7 linked regions of the Homo sapiens genome follow. The protein of the gene in region 1 purifies or fractionates together with the protein of each later gene. This does not show direct contact. Each region holds a gene or a part of one and is shown in the gene's direction. Other genes may lie near its edges. The genes, in order: PRMT2, KSR1, C15orf39, SETD5, ERF, KRABD3 and SETD1A.

Region 1 (3,500 bases):
GGCAGAATAAGTCAAAGAGCATTAAAATTTTTTTGTTTTTCCAGAAGCAGCAAAGTTCTGAAGGAGACGCAAGTAAAGATACCACAGGTGTCCTAGATTGTCAACAGACCATTTAATCATTTTTGTTAACAAAGCAGGTGACAATTGAGCCCTAATTTGCGTTATCATTAGTTGTTACAGGATCTTGCTTGTTCTCCTGAGGCCACGCCACGATTTCCGAGAAGCAGGTTGCACACTCAGCAGTCTCCCACTAGCCAGTGGCACTGCAGGTGCAGGGGCTGCCTCCTGGACCTTTCAGGACGCTTTGCAAGGTCACTGAGGATCTCCATTGCACATTTGGTAGAATTAAAAGACTGCCAGACTCAGTCTTACTGTTGTTAGTGTATTCGTGCTGTCAATATGTGATGAGGACATATTATATTCCGTTATTCTCTTTAGCTCAAGGAAGAATAAAGAATTTGGACCAAAATTACAACCACATTATGACGAATTTTCTAAGCAAAAGAAACAAAGTAACTGCTGAGGTTAACAAAGATGTAATAATTCTCTTCACACAGCCTTGTACTGTTTTATTGACTGTATTATCACAAATCCTGAGCTTAACGAAAGTCTTTATAAGTCAGCTCATGAAAACAGGCACGTGGCCAGTAAGAATTTAATTTCATACCAATAACACTTCAGACTTCGGATGTATTTAAGGCTGTTTGCACATATTTATAGAATGTGTGGTGTAGATGATGGGACAGCTCCCCCTCAGCAAGACTCTGGCCTAAATGTATTTGCTTTATTTACACAACAAGAGGATAAGCGTAAACACGGGCACTTTCAGTTTGTGGCACTGAAGGACGATCTACACAGGGCACCCTGCAGAGGCCACAACCAAGGCCGCCTGGCTTCCCAGTGGGACAGGCCTAAGGGAGGACTTCTGGCCCCTTTGCTTGATGTTCATGTTTTATGCCTTGATATTTCTTTTTGGTTGCATTCCCTGGAGCTCATGTAGATCATTTTACTTTTCAGAGGTGCTAGTTCTGGTGCCCACACGCACACACACAAAACCATCAACTCTTCTGGATTCCTTGGTTTTAAAGCTTGCCTCATACAAAGTACAGAGACATCTTTTTCAGGAAACATTGCCACCACATGCTTGAAGGACCGCTTATGGCTACACTTAGACATCTCCAACCAAGGTCTCTTCACCTCCTTCTACAACAATGCACTTTGTCTGCACTGGGACAAAAAATGACAGCCTTTTTTCTTTTCTTGTTTTTTTTTTTTTTTGGCGTGGAGCATTTCCGAACTTTCACGTCATAAAAAATGCAGCATAGTTAATCAGCAGCTTGCACTTCTGAGGGCACATTCACCTCGGGGGAGGAGGAAGGAGGAGGAGCTGGTGGGTGCTGAGACTGCAGTGTCCTCCTTCCCAGCAGCTGGACCCAGAGACCAGGCACCAAATTTTTTTGATGAAATTATCCTAAGGAAATAATCAAATTTGTACAGAAATTTATGTTAAAAAATGTTCATGGCAGCACCGTTTAAAATGGGGAGAAAATTGGAAACAACAGAATTGTAGCAATACATATGATCATTAAAAATTATGTTTTAGAAAGATTTTTAACAGTCTTTGGAAAAAGTTGGTGACATGTTGCTAGTTTTTAAAAAAAGTACAGAGTATGTACAGTATGATTCCAATTTTGTGTTTAAAAATTAGACATAGTGGTAACCTAGCTTCAGTTCCAGATAAGATGGAGAAGGCATACTCCTTTCATGTCTCCCACTGAATGCAGCTATAAATCCTGGAGAGTAGACAGGGAGAAACTATTTGAGGACTCTGGAACAAAGACATAGTAGCAATCGACTGGTGAAGAAGACAAGAATTTGAAGTACGGTCAAGTATCTGTGGGCTCCACATCTGTAGATACAACCTACATGTATTGAAAATATCAGAAAATAAAAATAACAATACAACAATAAACATCAATACAAATAACACACCAATACAGTATAGCAGCTACTTACATAACACTGACATTGTATTAGGTAGAAGTAATCTAGAGATGATTTAAAGTCTGTCGGAGGATGTGTGTAGCCTGTATGTAAAAACCACGTTATTTTATATGGGGGACTTTAGCATCCAAGGATTTGAATATCCACGGGGGTCCTGGAACAAGTTCCCCATAGACACCAAGAAACAACTGTATTCCTGAAACAGTCTTGAGTTATCATTTTCTTTCTTCTCCCTCTATGTATGTACATAGAGTGTACATACATAGAGTGAGAAGCAAAGAAGGTCCATGAAATGGACCAATTCTTTTGAAAACTGCAAATTACCACAGTTCATCTAACATGAAATAGATAACCTGAATGGTCCAATAACTAGTAAAGATATTGAATTAATAGTTTAAAAACCTTCTGAAAGGTAAATCTCTACCCTAAATGATTTCACTGGTGAATTCTATCAACACATTTAATGAAGAAAAAACTCCAGTTCTAAACAACTTTCAGAAAAGAAGAGGGAACACTTCCTCACTCATTATATGAGGTAAGCATTGCCCTAATACCAAAACCAATGTTAACACAAAATATGAAACCTACAGACCAATAACCCTCATGAACATAAATGTAAAAATCCTCAAGAAAACATTAGCAAATTTAAACCAGCAGGATATAAAAGGAATAATAATACACCATAACAAAAAAAGAAACTATCCTTGGAATGCAAGGCTGGTTCAATATTTGAAAATCAATCAGTGTAATCTACCATATTAACAGTCTGAAGAAGAAAAATCATGATTATATCAATACAGAAAAAAATTGACAAAATTCAACATCAGTTCATGATAAAATTCTCAGCAAACTAGAAAGGGAAGGAAATTTAACATGACATAGGACATCTACAAAAAAACCTACAGAAAATCCTAAGGAGTCTATGAGAAAATTTCCTAAAACTAGTAAGTGAGTTTAACAAGATCACAGAGTGCAAGGTCATCATACAGAAGTCATTTTTATATCTTAGCAATGTACAATTAGAAATTAAAGAATATCACAGTAGCTTCAAAAATATGAAAGGCTTAGAAATCTAACAAAATGTGATCTGGATGCTGAAAATGATGAGATGATAATGAAAGAAACCCCAGAAAACCTAAATAAATGGAGAGATAAGAAGGCTCAACCTAGTAAAGACGTATGTTCTTTTTAAATTGATCTGTAGACTTAATAAAATTCCAATTAGAATCCAAGCAGGATTTGTTCTTATAGATAAGCTCATTATGAAATGTATATGGAATGTAAAGGAACTAGTGCTATGGTTTGTCCCCACCAAATCTCATGTTGAAATTTGATCCTCAGTGTGGTGGTGTTGGGAGGTGGGGCCTAGTGGGAGGTGTTTGGGTCATGGGTGTGGATCCCTCATGAATAGATGAATGCCCTTCCTCGTGGGTAGATAAGTGAGTTCTAGCTCTTTCAGGTCCCAACAAGAGCTGGTTGTGAAAAAGAGCCTGGCA
Region 2 (3,500 bases), on another chromosome or scaffold:
TCAGGAGGCTGAGGCATGAGAATCGCTTGAACCCAGGATGTGGAGGTTGCAGTGAGCTGAGATTGCACCACTGCACTCCAGCCTGGGTGACAGAGCAAGACTCTGTCTCTAAATCAGTCAATCAGTCAATTGTTCTTTATTTGTAGGGGACTGGAAGCTGCTCTGGAAGAATTCCTGTACACTATTGTAGACTTTATAAACACTAAACACTTAGGCTATACTAAATTTATTTTAAAATATTCTCCTCAATAATAAATTAACCTTAGCTTACAACTTTTTTACATTATAATCTTTAAACATTTTTTTTAACTTGGACTCTTTTGTAATAACACTTAGCCCAAAACAAACATATTGTATAGCTGTACAAAAACTTTTTTTTTGAATTTTTATAAGCTTTTTTCTATTTTTAAAATCCTTATTTTTTCTTTTACTTTTTAAACTTTTTTGTTAACTAAGACACACACGCTAGCCTAGGCCTGTGCAGCCTCAGGATCATCAATATCACTGTCTTCCACCTCCACATCTTGTCCCACCGGAAGGTCTTCGGGGCAGTGACATACATGGAGCTGGCATCTCCTGTGATAACAGTGCCACCTTCTGGATACCTCCTGAAGGACCTGCCTGAGGCTAGTTTACAGATAACTTTTTTTTTTTTTTTTTTTTTTTGGTAAGTAGAACAAGTATACTCTAAAATCATGATTAAAAGACTGGATGTGGTGGCTCACGCCTGTAATCCCAGCACTTTGGGAGGCCAAGGTGGGCGGATCACCTGAGATCAGGAGTTCAAGACCAGCCTGGCCAACATAGTGAAACCCCGTCTCTACTAAAAATACAAAAATTAGCCAGGCATGGTGGTGGGCTGGGTGCCTGTAATCCCAGCTATTTGGGAGGCTGAGGCAGGAGAATCGCTTGAACCCAGGAAGCAGAGGTTGCAGTGAGCTGAGATTGTGCCATTGCATTCCAGCCTGGACAACAGAGCAGGACTCTGTCTCAAAAAATAAATATATAAATAAAAAAAATTTTAAAAATGATTAAAAGTACAATATAGTAAATACATAAACCAGTAATACAGTTGTTTATTCTCATTATCAAGTAAGATGCTACCGTGCATAATCGTGCGTGCCATCCTTTTATACAGCTTGTAGTTCCGTGGATTATTTCCCGCCAGCGTCACCACAGACACGTGAGGAATGCATGGTGCTGCCCTGTTACCACAGCTACCACATCACTAGGCAAGAGGAATTTTCCCACTCCATTATAATTAGGGCCACCGTCATGTATGTGGTCCCTTGTTGACCAAAACAACATTCTGTGGCACATGACTGTATTTACACCCCCATTTGACAGTGAGACAGCTGGAGAGGTTAGCCAACTCCCTAAGGTCCCAGAGCCTAGTTATGTGGCAGAATTGAGGTTGGAACATGCTGTCAGCTTCCAGAACCCCAGTGTATCCTTTTCAGTCACCTATGAGAGAGAGAGAAAAAAATGTGGGTAGGGAGTGGTAAGGTTGAGACACTCTGGAGGTACAGGTGGGGCTCAGGGGGAGGAGGCCATTCTTCCGTACATAACACTGTTAAACTTTTCAGAATCACTGTTTCTCTCCCATTGTATTTTGCCCTTCTGGGCTCACATGCATTTCACAGAGTGCTGGTGACCGGAGACGGGGTCTTGGAATGCCCAATCCTCCAGTGCAAGCCCCTTTAGTCCTGCAGACTCCTGCCAGGGCCCATTTTCTCCCAGCTCTTTTCCTCCTTCCTGCATGGTTTGGCCTGTCCTTGCCAGGTCCATCTGGGGTAGGGCTGTCCCAGCCCAGTAACAAGTCCCTGCCTCCCAAGCCGGTACCTGCAATTCCGCTCCTCCCTCCTGCGTTGGCCGTTCTGTGTGTGTGACTCACCTCCTCTTCTGTTTAAAGCTGCCTACTTCATTCATCATAGACAGCAGTTTATCTTTCCAGGTGAGTCCTTTGCATGGTTCCATTAACTGCCCTTTGCTGTGACCCCTTCTGTCCTGCCCACCTGGGCAGGGCGCCCTCTCTCTGGGTACCTTTGGAGATACTTGAGTCTCCCTCCACCTGTTCTGAGAGCTGACTGCCCATAGAGGATGGGAAGAGGGCAGGGCAAGTGCCCTGGTGGTAGGCCTCTTACGTGAGAAGTTCTTGCTGGGAGGGACCCTGGAATCCATCCCATCCAGCCTCTTGGCACAGAGACTGCAGGCAACCTTTTCAAGGTCACACTGCTAGGAGATGGCAGAAGGACTAGAATCTGGGTTTATAGAATGGGGAGAGGACTTTTTGCTAATGCCTTATGAGCATATGTCACCGTATCCTCCCTTGCACAATGATGGGAGGATATCTTATGCACAATGTCTTAGAGAAGTAGAAACCCATTTGGGAAGGTCTGCGGGCTTCTCTTAGTGGGCTTCACCCTTCTGTGCCTTACCACACAGTGCCATCTGCTGGCCATTGCTGGAAATGCCTCCTTATTGCAGAAAGTTTAAAGGAAAACGCTTTCAGTAAGTCAATACATTGAGTCCCTTCTGCAAAAGTTGTTTTCTACACTTACTATGTACCAACCTTTTCATTCCTGCCCCTAAAGTGCTTGAGATCAGTGCTTTTTACTGTAACTGAAGGTGATGAGCATAATGGTGTTTAAAACAAAGACTGTAGCTGTTTTTTTTTTGGATTGAACAGGACTGTCTTGAAGTCACAGTATTTTGGTTACTCCAGGCTTTTCTATTCCCTAAGCCAGCTCCATTAGGGGGTTGACTTGGAGCATCTGTGAGTCCTTAGAGGACCATCCATATGGCGTTGCTCAGGTGTGTGCAGGGCAGCAGTCAGGGCCCTGAGAACCCGCCTCCCGGAGGCTCCCTCTGAACAGCTGAGCAGCCTCTGCAGTTTCACACCGGTTTTTTGTTGTGGTTCCCCTGGTTACTAGCTCTAGGATGCACGCAGGGAATTACCCCAAAACATTGGGAAGATATGGCTCTTCTCCCAGAAGGGTCCATTTTCCCCCGAAGATATGTCACAGGGAGGGCAAGGAAATACATTTTTATTAAAGCAAACGTGGACACATTTTGGAGCAGAATGCATGATACACTCTTAACTTTTAAGCAAAAGCATGAGGATTCAGAGAGGCATTTTGCCTTCCCATCTGGGGTTTGGGGAGAAACCACACCCCAACTCTTACTACTTCCCTCATGCTTTAGGTGTGTGTTTGCCTCCTTTGGAACATTTGAGCAGTGTGGGATGGGTGGAAATGCCAGGCCCCTGCTGGTAGTCTGCAGACACACTGTGTCCGGGGGAGGCCTTACCGGTAGAGGCTTCTAAGGTTCTGATCCCCCAGAAATTGTGCACAGGATGTTGGGCACATGTGTGCATTTCCCTGATAAGAAGGCCCACGGCCTCTATCAGATTCTCCAAGTCTGTGAGGTCCCAGAGATGTTGACAGCCTGTGGTTCAGATGACCTTCAAAGGCAGAAGAAAGCCCTAGAAGAAGGTCGAG
Region 3 (3,500 bases), on another chromosome or scaffold:
TTCTGGCTCCGTCGCCCACTCTCCTCCAGAGAAGCTTCGCGAGTGGCTAGAGACGGCTGGGCCCTGGGGCCAGGCTGCGTGGCAGGACTGCCAGGGTGTGCAGGGGCTGCTGGCCAAGCTGCTGTCTCAGCTGCAGCGCTTCGATCGCACCCACCGGTGCCCCTTCCCCCATGTGGTGCGAGCTGGCGCCATCTTCGTGCCCATTCACCTGGTGAAGGAGCGGCTCTTCCCTCGGCTGCCACCCGCTTCTGTGGACCATGTGCTGCAGGAGCATCGTGTGGAGCTGCGGCCCACCACGCTGTCGGAGGAGCGGGCACTGCGGGAGCTCGCCCTGCCAGGCTGCACCTCACGCATGCTGAAGTTACTGGCGCTGCGCCAGCTGCCGGACATTTACCCCGACCTTCTCGGCCTGCAGTGGCGCGACTGTGTACGCCGCCAGCTGGGTGAGCATGGGGCAGCCCCAGTGGCCACCGGAGCTGTGTGAGCAAGTGACAGGTGTGTGTGCTGTGTGAGTGCGTCACAGCTGGGGCTGAGTGATTCCAAGGACTCCTGCCCGGGTAGGGGGCTTTAGGATGAGCTCTAGGTACCCCCACCCCTTGACCCTCCAGACAATCAGTGAGCACCTTCATAGCCTCTTTTGTAGGCTTCTGAACATGCCAGCTGCTCTGTCCCCATGGAAACTCCTCGGCCTCCCCTGGTGCTGCACCTTCTTGGATTCCCTCCTCCTCTGCCTGTGCCTTCTCCATCTTTGGTGCAGTGTTTCCGGCACTCTGGTTAGGCCCTGTTTTCTAGCTGAGATAATTTCCCTGATCTCCAGCCTAGCATCCCCTTTGTGAGCTCTAGCCCTAAATAACCCACTGCATGCTGGGCCTCAGCCCCTGGGTCTCTCTCCCACACTGAACTCATCCCAAATCACACTCCCGAGCCTTCCCCTCAGCTCACTTCCCACAACCAGTTCTTTTCCATGTCAGTGAAGGGCACCCCCTTTCACAAAGCTCCTCATGCTCTAGACCTGGTGAGGGCCACAGCTGCCTTTTTGAACGTGTAGTTTTGCAGTCCTCCCCGGCCCTTACATACACAGAAGTGTGCGCATAAGTCGCATTGTTTTGTGGTTTGCTTTTCCTCTACTAAATGATGTGCCTGCTGTTCTCCAGCTTGTTTTCTTTTAATGTCCTGGAGGACCACACAACTGCCGAAGTGTTGTGTGGCGTGTATGATCACACTTCTTCAGCTAGGGATCTGGTGATGGGACCAAGTGGATTCTGTTATTGCCCCTCCTGCGTCAGTACACCTGGCATTGCAGCCTGAGGCCCCCTCTAGTTTTTCTCTCCCTGCTGCCCCCAATTCCACCCTCTCCCATTTCCACTGCCCAGCCTCTTCCCTGTAGAAACTGTTCCTAGTTCCATCCCCGTAGTGGCAGCCTTGCCCCGGGCCCTTACCTGGTTGGGATGGGGAAGGGCCTGTGGCAGTGAGGTGCAGATGAGCTTAGGGGCTGGCTGACCAGAATCCCTGATCCCTGAGTACTTACAAAATTGGAGCAGATGCCTTAATGGGATGCAAAGGAAATCCAGACTCAGGCGATCTGTTACTGAGTGAGGGTCCCACATCACTCAGGGCTGGGCTGCCCAGCTCAGTCCTCTCCCCATACAGTTGGGCTGTCTGGGGCCCAGAGAGGGTCAGGTCTGTTTCTCCTGGGCTGCCTGATCAGCAGTGGAGTCTGGGCACTCCACACAGTCCGAGGTGCTCTGACTGGAGCTTGCAACAATCGGGGGGCCTGGGAAGCAAGTGATTGAGACCAGGCTTCTGGCTTCTGGCTGAATTTTGTTGCCCCTGTCCTCACTCCCTCCCACCTTGGGGGCCGTTTTTCTCTGTGTGCCCCTAGACAGTTATCCCTGCCTTCCTTTGTTGTGGGTGGGTTCCTGTGCTCCCCCAGCATGGCTCTTAGGACAGTCCCTACCTGGGCTCGGCCTCGGGCTTGGGCTTGGTCTCTGGGGCTGGTATGGCAGAAACATGATGGCTGTCTTATATATGGCAGGGTCCTCTGTTCCCATGCCTCAGTTTTCCATCTGAGCAATGGGTATTGGACCAGGCCAATGGTTCCTGACCTGCTGAGCCCCTTTGCTCTCATCCTTGTACCCAAACAGCCTCTCCTGAGTGGTGCCCTCATCAGATAGAGTTCTGGTGTCACCTGGGGAGAAGCACATCTTTTTTGCTTGGATGGTCTGGCCAGTGGGCATGTGTGGGGAAGAGTTGTGATGCCAGCCTGACTTGGGGCAGAGCAGAAGCACTGTTTGGATGGCTTTGGAAGCCAGGAGGTGGGACCTGAGGGTATGGGGTCTGCAGGCTGACTATGTGTTCGTTTTCCAGGTGACTTTGACACTGAGGCTGGAGCTGTGTCCTCCTCAGAGCCCACTGTGGCCAGAGGTGAGCCAGAGAGCCTAGCCCTGGCTCAGAAGTCACCGGCCCCCAAGGTCAGGAAGCCAGGCAGGAAGCCACCAACCCCTGGCCCGGAGAAAGCAGAGGCAGCTGCTGGGGAAGAGTCCTGTGGTGCCTCCCCTACCCCTGCTACCAGTGCCAGCCCACCTGGCCCCACACTGAAGGCCCGCTTCCGCAGTCTGCTGGAGACCGCCTGGCTCAATGGCCTGGCTCTGCCCACCTGGGGCCACAAGTCCTCAAGACCAGACCAGCCCTCACCCTGCCCACAGCTGCTGGACAGCCAGAGCCATCACCTGTAGCACTGGTTGCCAGTGCTGTGTGTATAGCAGTCACTCTCCACCCTTCCCTTCTGCCTGCCCAGCTGCCCCGGGGCCACGAGTGGATGCTGGGGCTGTGGCTGCTCCCCTGGAGGGGTTCCATCTCTGACCCTGTGGCCCATTCAGGGTGGGCTGAAGAGCCCCTGAGCTTTTAACGTGAGGGTCTTTATTGGATAGGACTACTCCCTATTTCTTGCCTAGAGAACACACATGGGCTTTGGAGCCCGACAGACCTGGGCTTGAATCCCGGCTCGTGTTCTTGCTGCAGGACCTGGGCAAGAAACTTCACCTCTGCTGAGCCCTCATTCCCCATGTGTAAAATGGGACAACGCAACCTACCTCACAGGGTTGTTGTGGGGATGCTGCCTGATACATACCCTGTCACCATTTGGTCTCTGCTTCCTCTCTGGGACAGGGCCTAGAATTGGAGGCAGAGAACCTTCCTATAGAAAGTCTTCGTGTGTCCTAGGACTTGGCTATCGTAGAGTGGTACCTTAGGCAGTGGATGTGACTCACACTTTCAGGAGTCACCCCCCAGCATTTGGGGTTGGGTTGGCCCTACTCCAGCCTGGAGCTCCCTGAGGGAGCCTGCACTCCCTGCTCCCAATCCCCGCTACTGGTGCAGGGATGCAGCCTGGAGCTGGCGTCCTTGTTCTGGGCCTGCTGCTGCCGCCACCCCAGGAGGCCCCAGGCCTGTCCTGAATTGACATCAGTGCTTCCCTGAACTGCCTCCCCCACCCCTGGCAT
Region 4 (3,500 bases), on another chromosome or scaffold:
AAACTTCTCCAGATTAGATATTTTCTTTGGAGTTTGACTTATAAGATTGATTCATTATATACATGTTGGATATAGCCTTCTGACATCACAAATATATGTCTTTGGCCATAATCCATCTGAAATGTAGGACAGACCAGAAGAAATATGCAGAAATCGAATAAGTCTAGTTCAGGATACTGAGAAGATGGCCTCTGAGCCCCTTAGGTGATCTCCCCTCCCCCACAACTCCTGAACATTAGGATGATCTCTGATTAAGCAAAACAGTCTGAGCGTGGAAAAACTTGAAGGAGAACCACCACCACCAATTATATGCAATACTGGACATATTCCTGTGTGCTGTTTTTCTTCCCCAAGACTCGTGTATCCTATACTTTTTTCTCTCAGAATTTTGATTTGTTCATTTTCGTGTAAATGTACTTAAATCTCACAAACATCTATAATTTGTAGTATCACTCTGGCATTTGTGGCAGAGAACCAAAAAGAATGGAAATGAGTTTTGTCATTCACAAATGTGGCTCACATTGTTTTCCCAGTAATAAAAGCAGACCAATGAAACAGAACCTTTAATGGATACTATTTTAGGAGGTTCCAATTCTTATTACTATCACATAGATAAGATGCAATAGCAGATAAATATGATTTCATGTATACTGGCTGTTTGACATACTTAGGGTTTAAGATAAAAATGTTTGTAGTTTTTTACTCTGTGGCTTAAGTTGCTATATAAAATAATTGCTTTTACACTCGAATTTCCTGTTGTTTGGAACCTTTTGTGCTCTTGATATTATCATTTTTTAGAGGATCATACAGGCCCTTTTCATAGAAGGATTTACTTAAGTTATACCCTTGAAAACTTTTTTATATCTTTTGATACTGTTTTGTGTCCAGGAACTGACTTTCTGAAATTATTCTGGCTTTTCTGGGGAGAATGACTATTTCATTTTTACCTTTGAATGGGGAAATAATAAAGTGCAAAGTACAGATTTGCAGATAATTACTTTTGCTTTATCCTCTCCATGTTGAAATAACTTATGAAAAATTAGGCCATAGTTAACAGCAGTCAATGACTATTGGATACATTTTATCAGAGGGGAACTGGATCATGAATAAAATAAAATTTTAAAAATAATTTTTGGCTGAACTCTGGTGATTCATCAGTTTAATTTGAAGTCAGAAGGTCTAGCAGTGAATTTTATTTATAAAAATTGTATTTCAAGTGTTGAAAACTGAAACTTCTTGACCAGTATATTTTGTTTGAGGCATCAAACTTTGCAAAATGTGCATCGTATATTTAGTGATATAACTGGTAGTCATTTGTAATTTAAAGTATTCTTTCAAAGGCACTCTTTAGAAAGTAATGTAGTGTACCCGTGATGGGCAGGGATTGGTACCATTCCTTACTGCCAAAAATTCCAAAATATGTGGCAAAATGATTGATTTATCTTGTGGGTGGGATTCTGGGAAGTTCATGAAAGGTGGAGAGAATATAGTTTCCTTCACTTGTCTATATACATTTTGTTAAATAAGTCTTAGGAAAACTGTTTTATTGTATCTTTAATTATGAATTGCGTAAAAGATACCCAGTAACTTTGGGGGGAGGTGCTGTTAGAAAGCATTACATTGGAGAGAATTCCCCTACCCTGGGACAAAATGCATTCTGTCTTTAATACTTAGCGAAGGGAACTATGGGATAAAATAAACAATGAAGGTAAGCTCAGTCTGCTTTATATGTGCCCTCACTGAGCAAGGAATTTGTAATCGCATCGTGCCTCATTCGTTTATACCATCATATTGATTTTGTTTGCTGAGTACCTGAGGGAATACCTTACTTAATGTAAGGTCACATTAAGTATGTTTGATATGAAGACAGGGAAAGGAATTTTCTGCTTCTTGGAGTAATGTCTTAGTATTTTTAAAACACTTAAGTTTTTACATCAGGCCAGTTTTGCCTGATGCTCATGTCTGTTGCTTTGGTTGGGCTGCTGCTTTCTCTTCTGTGTTCTTATGGGTTCGTTGTGGTATAAGGATTCCCACAGCTTTCATGGCAGTATGAAGTAATGAGAAGCATTGCCTTAGCCATGTTAGTTACATGTATACTTTTGGCCTATGTTATGAATCACAAAAAGCGGTAGCTATAGGAATGTATACAAAATAGATTTCTGTCTGGGGAATCAAGTTTTTGATTTGTGCTACCTAATGGAGGGGAAAATGCTGAATTTCTTGCTGCTCTGTTTGAGAAATAGATGGAAGCATGGGAGGAGCCAGAGACCTCTGCAGCAGGATTTGGTCTAAGTAGAAAAGGAAGATTTTTGTTTCAAATTGCCAGCTGCTTATGTCAGACTGACTCCCTTATTATGCCTCCAGTAGGCCTGTCAATATGGCCAAACAGCTAGATAAGTGCGGGGCAGGACAAAGGGCTCTTTGCACAGCAGGGAGGCAATGTTGGTGGGGGAGGGGCAGGAGGTAGGAAAGGCAAGAGGAGGAGGTTCTTTTCCCTGGGAGATTATTCAGTTTGGCATACAATTAAAGAAATCATTTTTAGTTCCCACTCAAGCATTGAATTTTTGCCAACCACATACTATTAACCCCAAATTTGATACATTTCAGAATATCTTGTAGGGATCCATTCTCGCCAAGGAAAAATAAAAAAATAAATAAAGCTCTGTATAGGTTAAAATAAAATAAATCCCACACTCTGCACCCTCCTAGGTGCAAGTCACCTCCCGAGGAGACCCGTTCTAGAGCTGAATTCTCATTAAGAAATGGAAAAGAATACTCTATCTGAATAAAAACACATTGTAATACAATGTGTTTATTTGGGTTGGGATTGGACCTGAACATGTAGAATAATTTGTTTCCCTTTATGAAATAGTTGCTCGTAGTTGTCTACAATTTTATTTCATTAAGATAGGTAGCACATTACAGCTTTCATGTGTTGGGTTGCCATATGTAAAATGCTAACTGAAGAAAGGCTACTTTTTAATTTCAGCCTCATCCTTAGTTCCTGGAGAACCTGATATTTCCTGGAGATTACTCCCTCCCCCACCTTTTAGTTTAGGCAACCTCTTTTGATACATTTGTGTTCAGCTCGCATACAAGTGGGATAGTTGCATCCAGTTTATTAAGACTTAGTATGAATCATAGAGTTGGAAAAGATCTGTTGGTTATCTGGTCCTTTAAACCAAAATCATAATGAAATATTTTGAAATTTGGGTCCCTATTGAAGTTTTCATTAAAATGTTAAAGGATCGGTGTTCTGAACAACATTTTTAGTTACTTTTAAAATAAATGTTTTGCGTCAGTTCTTTTTTTAAAAATAAAGAATTTCATTTATAGGCAAATTAGCTGGCAATTATTTGAATTGTGATAGGATTTCTCTTTTATGAAGGAATATATGACAAGGTTTTTCAAAATGCTTAATATATTTTAAAAGACTTTAATTTTTAGAAATAATTGGTTTGAACAGTTTTCCAAGAGCACATTTGTTGCTTGGGTTGAGG
Region 5 (2,530 bases), on another chromosome or scaffold:
ACCTTGTGATCTGGATTCTCTAGAAGGGTGAGGATAATGGGTTGAACACCTAGATTCCCAAGAGAGCGATGGTGCTCTGGGGTCTCTGGAAGGGGTTGTCAAAGGCTGTCACTTTTAAATGGAACAGGGGCTGTTGGTGCTGGTCTGTGAACAGCTGGAGGTCATATCCCTGGCACCCTGAGGGGCTGGTGGAAGGCTGGGATATATCTGAATGGGGCAGGGACTCCGGGGGCTATGTGGTACTGCAGCCCAGTCTGGGCAGGAGTTGGGGGCCTACAGTGAGCTCTGGATTTGGAGGGGGTGGTCCCTGTGGGAGCAGGAACTACTGATTCCCTGGATTCCCAAGGGGAAGGATCCCTTGTTGGATTCCAGACTTGGGTGGAGTCTTTGAGGGTGGATGTGTTGCCTGGAGGCCTTGTTGGTACCTGTTTGAGCTGGGGCCAAGGGAGGCGGATTGACCCCTGCAGCCTGACTGGATTTGGGAGCCGCCCATCTTTAGCTGGCCACCTTGGCCTTCTCTCTCTAGTGGCACCAGGGACCCTGCTCTGCCTCCCCACTCCTTCCCTTCCTCCCCTTTCCCTCCTCCCACCCCTCCATTACCGGCTGCCTGGTGCTGAATTATTGATGGCCCCTGTTGTTGGGAAATGACAACAACCGCAGTCCCCCCACCCCCCACCCCCCACCCCAGGCTGCCCACCCCCTCCAGAGACCAGCCAGCCCACCGCCAACCTCTACCCAAGGTTAATGCTGGGGGTGGGCAGGCAGGTGGGCAGGGAAGGAGCTGAAGATGAGAAGGCAGAAGTGGGAAGAGGGTGACAGCTCCAGGGTGCCTGCTCAAGCTCCAGGCCTGGGCTGGGCCCTCCAGCCAGGTGGGGCCTGGATGCCTGGGTCTGGGGAGGGCAGTGTAGCTCAGAGGGTCCAGGGCTTGGGGGGCCTCTCAGACAGTCTGGGTTTCACTCTCCAGGGAAGACAGAAGCCTCTGTGTGTGCAAGCGCTGACCTCATCGGCAACCGAGTCACCCCACCCCTCCTGGTCCTTTTAAGAAAAAAAAAAAAAATCTTCCTCTCAGGTCTTGGGGTTGGGAGTAGGGGCTCTGTTGGGTCTTCGGAGGAGACAGTGCATGTTTCTAAGGAGGACATCCGAGGAGCTGGGGTGGTGCAACTGGCTCTGAATGGGAGTGGGGGTAAGCTGGGGGGCTGTACCCCAACCCGGCTGGCCACGTGTGCCCCTTCCTGCCCCTCCCCCACTGGCAGCCCTGCCCGCCAGCCTGGCTTGGTGCCTGGCCCCCTGGCACTGGCCCCGGGACCCACCGCCGACGGTTTCCTGTTTCTCCCGGTGTCGCTGGAGCGGGCTCCAGCTTCCCCTCCCCCCCAGCTCCTGTCTAGCCCCTCACATGCAGACAGACAGACACGCACTGTCTTCTCTTAAATCAGATCTTGACTTGGCTGAGGTGAGACAGATTTCCCCATGTTGAAGGCAGGGCAGAGGTGGACCCTGGGATGGGACCCAGAGCCCTGGACTTGGCAGCCTGACCCCAGGCCACTCCCTGCCTCCCGTCCCCAGGGTTTGCCTTCCCGGATTGGGCCTACAAGCCAGAGTCGTCCCCTGGCTCAAGGCAGATCCAGCTGTGGCACTTTATCCTGGAGCTGCTGCGGAAGGAGGAGTACCAGGGCGTCATTGCCTGGCAGGGGGACTACGGGGAATTCGTCATCAAAGACCCTGATGAGGTGGCCCGGCTGTGGGGCGTTCGCAAGTGCAAGCCCCAGATGAATTACGACAAGCTGAGCCGGGCCCTGCGGTGAGGACGGGCTGGGGACCCCTGAGCACATGTGGAGTGCCCCCCCGGGGTTGCACAGCCCCTTGCCTGTGGGAACAAGCATTGGGTCTGACCCCTGGCTTTGCCAAATCCTAGCTGTGTGACCTTGGGCCACTCCCAGCCCTTCCCTGAGCCCCTTGGTAACACAGACGTATCCTGAGGAGAGATTACAGTCACCAGTGGATCCTCTAGTCCTGCCTTAGATGTGAGGAGAGAGCTGGTACCCACCCTCTGGGCACTTGATTTGTCTTTTGTGGCCTACGTTCCTCAGTTGGCCTTTGGGAACCACACCTAAGTGCGTGTTAAGGTGTGGAGTCTAGACCTGGGTCCCACGTACCTGACCTTCCCAATGGCATTTCTGTACCCACAGCTATTACTATAACAAGCGCATTCTGCACAAGACCAAGGGGAAACGGTTCACCTACAAGTTCAATTTCAACAAACTGGTGCTGGTCAATTACCCATTCATTGATGTGGGGTTGGCTGGTGAGTACCAGGGATGGTTGGTGTGGAGAGGGTCTACATGCCCCTTCAGGCTAGGCCAGGGGCCTTGACACTGTCTCCCTTCTGCCAGGGGGTGCAGTGCCCCAGAGTGCCCCGCCAGTGCCGTCGGGTGGTAGCCACTTCCGCTTCCCTCCCTCAACGCCCTCCGAGGTGCTGTCCCCCACCGAGGACCCCCGCTCACCACCAGCCTGCTCTTCATCTTCATCTTCC
Region 6 (3,500 bases), on another chromosome or scaffold:
GACAGGGGGCTTCTGCAGTTTGCAGAGATTGAGCTACAGTCCCCCTCATCTGTGAATGTTTGATCTTCACAGGAAGCCCACCAGGAAGCTCCCCACTGCAGGGTCTGGAGAATTGTCTCAAGGAGATACCTGTGCCTGTGCTGCGGCCTGCCTGGCCCTGCTCCTCAGCAGCAGACAGGGGACCGAGGAGAGCAGAGCCCAGGAACTGGACAGCAGACAAGGAAGGTAATAGTGGCTGCCGGGGCCCTGGGTGTAGACAGGGCTGCTCTGAGGATGCCCTAGGCGCTGCACCTGTGGGCTCAGATCTGCTCCTGAGCCAACATGGTGCTCTGGAAACAGACCTGGGCAGAGCCTTGTTGGAGGCCAGAAAGCCAGATAGTCTGCAGCACACACGTGTAGACCTGCTGGCACCTTAGTGCCACTGTCTGCGGTTCCACCATCCCAGCTGGAGCTGGCTCCTTGTGGCTGGGTGTCCTTGTCCCGGCCGTGCCAGCCCCACGAGCCTTGGTGTCTGGGCACCAGTCTCCAAGCCCAGGGGTCCACGCAGCTGGGTCTGGGAATAGAGATGTTCTGGAGGGTTCAGGCGCTCCCTGGAACATGACAGATGGGTGTTTCCCACACCTGATGCTGGTGTGCCTGAGAGCCCAGCAATGGCAGAAACTGTTCCCTGTCCCTTCTTCTGTGGCAGCACGAGGCCCCGTGGGGCTGACAGGCCTTCTGATTTCTCATTAAAACAGGACTGAGGGCTGAGGCCTGCGAGTCAGCCCGTCTCGGGCAGGGTAGGGGAGAAGCGCCCACCCGGAGCCTCCATCTGGTCAGCCCACAGGTGTTCACCTCCAGCTGCGTCCCCGCCTGCCACCAGCGGGGGTTCAAAGACCCTGGGGCCACCAGGCCAGGAGTGTGGAGGTGGCTCCCAGAGGGTGAGCTGGCACCTGCCCTCGGTACTGACAGCCCCACTTCAGTTAAAGTGTTTGACAAGGAAATAGACTTCCCTCTCTGTCCCTCTGTTTCTTCCCCATCTCTCATCCTTTCCCCAGAGGACAGAAGCTGGTGCCAAACAGAAACTGAGGTTCGCTAAACAAGAAGATAAAGTGTCACAAAGTGCTGACAAGGAGCGGGGTCGGGAAGATCATTGTTTGTGTCCATCCATTGGGTTTCTCCAGTGGAGAAGCTTCTTGAGGGGGCTCCCGCCGTCCACTGCTGCTGCTTGGTTTAACTTCCAGCAGAATTCCTTCCTAGATCTGCTGCAGGGCCTGCTGGGATGCCTTTGCTGAATAAATGCGGTTTTGCTGACCCTCCCATCAGACGAGGATGGGCCCTAACTGAGCCCCACCCTTGGGCTGCTGGCCCCTGTGAGATACTGGGGTGCAGGGATGGCACCTGCCTGGTGGGAGAAGCCGCCTGGCCTGTGAGACCTAGGCCTGGCTAGAACCTGACTGCTAATGGCTTCCAAGGACTGGAGACTTCCAGAAAGTTCCCCAGCAGACTTTCCAAAGCTGCTGGGGTCCTGGCCAGGCTCTGGCTTCACTTTTGTCCTCTTTCTCTGGCAAGAGAGGCAGCCATTTAGGGTCCACTAGAACGCATGCTGATCGTGGGCTGAGCTGAAAAGGGGACCGGTTCTGTGTGCCCAGACACTAAGGCAGAGACCTGGCTCTCTTCAGGCTGATGACAGAGCACTCTCTGGTCCCCTGCCCAGGGTCTGCCCCCAAGCCCTCCCCGCTGCACTGCCTGGAGAGCGCCCTGAGGGGGATCTTGCCTGTAAGGCCCTTGCGCTTCGCCTGCGTGGGAGGCCCCAGCCCCAGCCCCAGCCCCGGCTCCAGCTCGAGCTTCAGCGGCTCTGAAGGAGAAGACCCGAGGCCAGAGCCTGATCTCTGGAAGCCGCTCCCCCAGGGTGAGCCTGTGCGGAGAGGGAGGATAGCGGGATGTGTGCCAGGGCGCCAGTCACCACTCTGATGCCAGCTTTGTTTGTGACGTTAGAGAGGGACCGCCTTCCCAGCTGTAAGCCTCCTGTCCCTCTGTCCCCATGTCCTGGTGGGACCCCTGCTGGCAGCAGTGGCGGCAGCCCTGGTGAAGACCCCAGGAGAACAGAGCCCAGGTACTGCAGCGGCCTCGGTGCAGGTGAGCCTGGGGTCTCCTGAGGGGGCGCCCATGCGTTCCCCAGAGGACCAGGAGTCCAGACTGGATCCTTTGAGTCCTGCCTGTCGCTTTGCCTGGCTCTTGCCAGGGAGTCCTGCACATTGGCCGTGCTTTAGTTCCCTGTAAGGTGAGCTGTGTCCGAGAAGGAGGGCGGGGCTGCTGGGGGTGCTGGTGAGCAGCTGCAGGGAGGTCTGAGCCACTCACTTGATGCCACGTACACGGTGTTTGCGCTTGCTAATATACACGTGTGCATGTAGACAGATGTGGATGTATTTATACAATAATAGCGTATGCTTTTAAAACTTGGCAATCAATAACAAAAGTCTCAAAAGTGAGATTTCCCCAGCTGGGGGTACTTCTTGGAGAGTGTCCCATTAGGAAAGCTAGAATGCTGCCTATTGCCCCAGGCCACCTTGCTTCTCAATCTCACTGTGACCCACTGTTTGCTCCTAGCAGAAAAAGCAGATGGGACAGGAGACAGGTCCCAGTTGCCTGGGAGAAAAGAGAGTTTAGAGAGTACCTGCTGTCCTGGCCCCCTCAGGAGTGCTGGAGGACGAGGACGAGGAGGGAGAAGCAGTGGTAGAAGGAGGGAGAAGCAGGGGAGAAGGAGGAAGAGGCCAGAAATGGTCAGGGGAGGGAGCTCTCCCCAACTCCTGCAGCTGGCTCCATTTACAGGCATTGGCCCTGGTCTGTGTAGACCCAGGCTGCACCACATTCTTCACTCCGCAGTGGGCCTAGTGGAAAATGGCAGAGTGGGCTGGGTGTGGACCACAGGATGCCCCAGCACGCCCTTGGAAGTCTCACTGGGGCAGGACCCGCAGATGAGAGTCCTTTTTCCCAGCTGCCTCCCCAGCCGCCTCCTCCTGCCGGAGCCCCCTGCATACAGGGCAGGAACACCACACACACACGCACCGCGGCGGGCCCTGCCACCAGAATTAGGCTCCCTCATGGGCCAAGTTTCCGTCTTCTATCTCATTTAATCATTGTTTAAAAGTTGAGAGTTTGATATTGTTTTAGGGTATGTCAGAATGGCTCTGGCCAAACGATCGTCTCCCTGCCCCAAGGTCTCTGTGCTCTTTCTATAGGTACAGCTCAGGATCCCTGCCCGGTTTCTCAGCTGGAGAAAAGGCCCAGGGTTAGTGAAGCATCCAGAGGCCTGGAGCTTGGACATGGAAGACCCAGAGTTGCAGGTGAACTGGTGGCTTCCCCCATTCCCTCTGCACGGGCCAGGACCCAGAGCCCCAGCTTGGGGAAAACAGCCTTCCAGGGTCAGTGTTTGAGTGATGGGTAGGAAGTCTCACCTGTAATGCACTTCAGGTTGCATATTTCCTTTCAGTGTTTTATCACAGAAGCAGTTGGGATTT
Region 7 (3,500 bases), on another chromosome or scaffold:
ATCCCCGGATTGTAGTTGCAGGTCTTCCTCTGGTCTGCTGATTTACATTTTCTGTATTTTGGGTTTTTCCATCCATGAAATTCAGTGTCTGGAATCACAGAATTCCGAGTTAAACGAGGCATCTCCCCAAGTTTCCCACCTGATGCTAATGCCCTCCTACCACCTTCCTCCTAGTTTGCCTGAGTTTGAGCCCTTGCTTGATAGCTACCATGGCCTGGAAACTTGCCCATTGAGTCAGATCTGCTTCCCTGGAGACCCACTGGCCTTCATACTCTTTTCTTGGGCCAGGCATAACAAGTCAGCTCCCTCTTCCACCCGACCAGAAAATGATACAAGATCAAATGGACAGGACATATTTAAAACTGTGTGGGCTGGGCGCAGTGGCTCCTGACTGTAATCCCAGCACTTCCAGAGGCTGAGGCAGGAGGATCACCTGAGGTCAGAAGTTCAAGACCAGCCAGGCCAACATGGCACAACCCTGTCTCTACTAAAAATACAAAACAGCCAGGCATGGTGGTGTTCACCTGTAATCCCAGCTACTTGGGAGGCAGAGGCACGAGAATCACTTGAACCCAGGAGGTGGAGGTTACAGTGAGCCAAGATTATGCCACTGCACTTCAGCCTGGGTGATAGCACGAGACTGTGTCTCAAAAAAAAAAAAAATACATATATATATATATATGTACACACACATATGTATATACACACAAATATATACACACACACATATATATATACACACACATATGCGTATCTGTATATATTAAGGCCAGGCAGGGTGGAGCTCACCTGTAATCCCAGCACTTTGGGAGGCCGAGGCGGGTGGATCACAAGGTCAAGAGATCGAGACCATCCTGGCCAACATGGTGAAACCCCGTCTCTACTAACAATAGAAAAATTAGCCAGGCGTGGTGGCGGGTGCCTATAGTCCCAGCTACTTGGGAGACTGAGGCAGGAGAATTGCTTGAACCCGGGAGGCAGAGGCTGCTGTGAGCTGAGATTGTGCCACTGCACTCCAGCCTGGCGACAAAGCGAGACTCCGTCTCAAAAAAAAAAATATATATATATATGCCAGGCACGATGGCTCACGCCTATAATCCCAGCACTCCAGGAGGCTGAGGCAGGAGGATCACTTGAACCCAGGAGTTCAATACCAGCCTGAGCAACATAGGTAGACCCTGTCTCTACAAAAATTTTTAAAAATTAGCTGGGTATGATTGCATGCCCCTGTATAGTCCCAGTTACTCAGGAGACCGAGGCAGGAGGATCGCTTGAGCCCAGCAGGTTGAGGCTGCAGTGAGCTGTGGTCATGCCACTGCACCCCAGCCTGAGTGACAGAGCAAGACCCCGTCCCAAAAACAAAAACAAATACAAAACTATGAAACATGAGGTAACTGAGGTGTTTGAGTTCCTCTGGTGAGCTTCCAAATTCTCATCTGTGAAATGAAGACCATCAGGAAGATTGGTAATAGTATATGTAAAGCCCCTTGCACAGGGCAAGTATCTTGTGGTTGATGGTAAATTTCCCCAACTACCACTCTGCTGGCCTAGACCCTGAACAAGAGAAGGAGGCTGGAGAGCCAGGACGTCCGGGGACCAAGCCCCCGAAGCGGGACGAAGAGCGAGGCAAGACCCAGGGCAAGCACCGCAAGTCCTTTGCTCTGGACAGCGAAGGGGAGGAGGCATCCCAGGAGTCCTCCTCGGAGAAGGTGAGGGCCCGGGCGCCGGCTCCTGGCCGAAGCCTACTTCCCATAGCCAGCATCTTTGTGGTTGGAGCCCAGGCAGCTGTGCCTGGTGTAGGACCAGTTGTCCCCTTCCTGTTAGTCCTCATTTGTCTTTTTTCTTAAGGATGAGGAGGATGACGAGGAAGATGAGGAAGATGAAGATCGAGAGGAAGCTGTGGATACCACAAAGAAGGAGACAGAGGTGTCGGATGGTGAGCACAAGACAGTGAAATCGACTTTGGGCTCGGAGGAGGGGTTCGGCTGCCTGGCTAGCCCTTTTCTGAGCCCACATGACCTTCCTGCTGGGCTTGTGGGTCACCTTTGCCTTCTGCAAGGGCATCTGTTTGGGCCACATTCTTAGGAACCCTTGGCCCCTTGACAGCAATAAGCTCAGTGCTCAAAATGCTCCCTCCTGCTCCCTCTTCTGCTGAGACATAGCTGTCCAAAAGGACAGCCTGGCAGAACGCTTTTTTTGTTTTGTTTTTTGTTGTTGTTGTTGTTGTTGTTTTGAGAGAGTTTCGCTCTTGTCGCCCAGGCTGGAGTGCAATGGCGCAATCTCGGCTCACTGCAACCTCCGCCTCCTGAGTTCAAGAGATTCTCCTGCCTCAGCCTCCGTTGTAGCTGGGATTACAGGCACCCACCACCACCCCCAGCTAATTTTTTGTATTTTTAGTAGAGACAGGGTTTCACTATGTTGGCCAGACTGGTCTTGAACTCCTGAGCTCAGGCGATCCACCCACCTCAGCCTCTGGAAGTGCTGGGATTACAGGCGTGAGCCACCACACCCAGATTTTTTTTTTTTTTTTTTGAGACAGAGTCTCGCTTTGTCACCCAGGCTGGAGTGCAGTGATGTGATCTTGGCTCACTGCAACCTCCGCCTCCCTGGTTCCAGCGATTTTCCTGCCTCAGCCTCCCAAAGCGCTGGGATTACAGGTGTGAGCCACCACACCTGGCTAATTTTTGTATTTTTAGCAGAGATGGGGTTTTACCATGTTGGCCAGGCTGGTCCCAAACTCATGACCTCAAGTGATCCACCCACCTCGGCCTCCCAAAGTGCTAGGCTTTCACCTGTGAGCCACTGCACGCAGCCTCTTGCAGCAGTCTTGACTGATTTCCCTGTCTCTCTTTCTGTCCTTCTCCCTCTGTTCCAGTCCATTTTCCAAACTGCTTATAGAATCTCTTTCCTAAAATGCACTCCTGACCCTGTGACTTCCCTCCATAAGGTCCTTCCTGGCAACTTGTTCTCCACAGGGTGTCCCCCCAGGCCAACACCATGGGCCGTTTATCTCCTGGCCCTGCTCTGTTCAGCTCCATCTCGCCCTCCTCCAGTCCGCTCCCCAGCTGCCACCACCTTCTAGTCTAACTTATCCAATTCTGTTCCTCAAAAACTGTGAAATTCTTCAGTTTTTTCGAGTCCTTCCCGTACATGAGCAGTCTCAGAATATAGAGCCTGTCGTGTTTTTTAACCTTTTCAGCCCAGAATCCTTTTTCACCCAATCCTTCGTCCAGACTGGGTCCTGAGACCCACTTTAGGAAGGTTTGAGTGCCAGAGCAGCCTGCTTCCCAGTCTCCAAGCCTCCACTTCCTCTTGCTTCCGACATCCCTGTGCAGTCCCCATGTCTGTGTGGTGGACTCCTTGTCCTTGAGTTCAGCTTGTCCCCTGGGATGCTTTCCTTTTCGGGCCTCTTCAGACAGAGTCTGGGGCTTCCTTTGCCATCCTCCCCGCATGCTGATGTTTATCTCACAGTGAAAATGGTTTGCTTATGCAGCTCCTTG

Evidence for each region.
Region 2: the proteins of PRMT2 (region 1) and KSR1 purify together in Homo sapiens (affinity purification with mass spectrometry; 3 studies listed by BioGRID and IntAct, with this or other methods). This does not show direct contact.
Region 3: the proteins of PRMT2 (region 1) and C15orf39 purify together in Homo sapiens (affinity purification with mass spectrometry; 3 studies listed by BioGRID and IntAct, with this or other methods). This does not show direct contact.
Region 4: the proteins of PRMT2 (region 1) and SETD5 purify together in Homo sapiens (affinity purification with mass spectrometry; 3 studies listed by BioGRID and IntAct, with this or other methods). This does not show direct contact.
Region 5: the proteins of PRMT2 (region 1) and ERF purify together in Homo sapiens (affinity purification with mass spectrometry; 3 studies listed by BioGRID and IntAct, with this or other methods). This does not show direct contact.
Region 6: the proteins of PRMT2 (region 1) and KRABD3 purify together in Homo sapiens (affinity purification with mass spectrometry; 3 studies listed by BioGRID and IntAct, with this or other methods). This does not show direct contact.
Region 7: the proteins of PRMT2 (region 1) and SETD1A purify together in Homo sapiens (affinity purification with mass spectrometry; 3 studies listed by BioGRID and IntAct, with this or other methods). This does not show direct contact.

The regions. Positions count from the first base shown.
Region 1 is NC_000021.9:46,652,674-46,656,173, forward strand, and holds part of PRMT2 (protein arginine N-methyltransferase 2), read left to right. Parts: exon of another isoform or gene 1-171; coding exon of another isoform or gene 172-381; exon of another isoform or gene 382-2,424; intron 2,425-3,500. UniProt on the Homo sapiens protein: Arginine methyltransferase that methylates the guanidino nitrogens of arginyl residues in proteins such as STAT3, FBL, histone H4. Acts as a coactivator (with NCOA2) of the androgen receptor (AR)-mediated transactivation.
Region 2 is NC_000017.11:27,599,448-27,602,947, forward strand, and holds part of KSR1 (kinase suppressor of Ras 1), read left to right. Parts: intron 1-1,138; coding exon of another isoform or gene 1,139-1,296; exon of another isoform or gene 1,297-1,776; intron 1,777-1,782; coding exon of another isoform or gene 1,783-1,889; exon of another isoform or gene 1,890-1,906; intron 1,907-1,912; coding exon 1,913-1,954; intron 1,955-2,445; coding exon of another isoform or gene 2,446-2,511; intron 2,512-3,500.
Region 3 is NC_000015.10:75,208,382-75,211,881, forward strand, and holds part of C15orf39 (uncharacterized protein C15orf39), read left to right. Parts: coding exon 1-443; intron 444-2,367; coding exon 2,368-2,735; 3' UTR 2,736-3,500.
Region 4 is NC_000003.12:9,400,615-9,404,114, forward strand, and holds part of SETD5 (histone-lysine N-methyltransferase SETD5), read left to right. Parts: intron 1-3,500.
Region 5 is NC_000019.10:42,249,599-42,252,128, reverse strand, and holds part of ERF (ETS domain-containing transcription factor ERF), read left to right. Parts: intron 1-688; exon of another isoform or gene 689-740; intron 741-964; exon of another isoform or gene 965-1,183; intron 1,184-1,563; coding exon 1,564-1,798; intron 1,799-2,186; coding exon 2,187-2,302; intron 2,303-2,390; coding exon 2,391-2,530. UniProt on the Homo sapiens protein: Potent transcriptional repressor that binds to the H1 element of the Ets2 promoter. May regulate other genes involved in cellular proliferation.
Region 6 is NC_000007.14:149,728,451-149,731,950, forward strand, and holds part of KRABD3 (protein KRBA1), read left to right. Parts: intron 1-72; coding exon 73-225; intron 226-737; coding exon 738-920; intron 921-1,037; coding exon of another isoform or gene 1,038-1,078; exon of another isoform or gene 1,079-1,301; intron 1,302-1,696; coding exon 1,697-1,891; intron 1,892-1,977; coding exon 1,978-2,118; exon of another isoform or gene 2,119-2,263; intron 2,264-3,221; coding exon 3,222-3,326; intron 3,327-3,500.
Region 7 is NC_000016.10:30,967,754-30,971,253, forward strand, and holds part of SETD1A (histone-lysine N-methyltransferase SETD1A), read left to right. Parts: intron 1-1,551; coding exon 1,552-1,709; intron 1,710-1,848; coding exon 1,849-1,936; intron 1,937-3,500. UniProt on the Homo sapiens protein: Histone methyltransferase that catalyzes methyl group transfer from S-adenosyl-L-methionine to the epsilon-amino group of 'Lys-4' of histone H3 (H3K4) via a non-processive mechanism.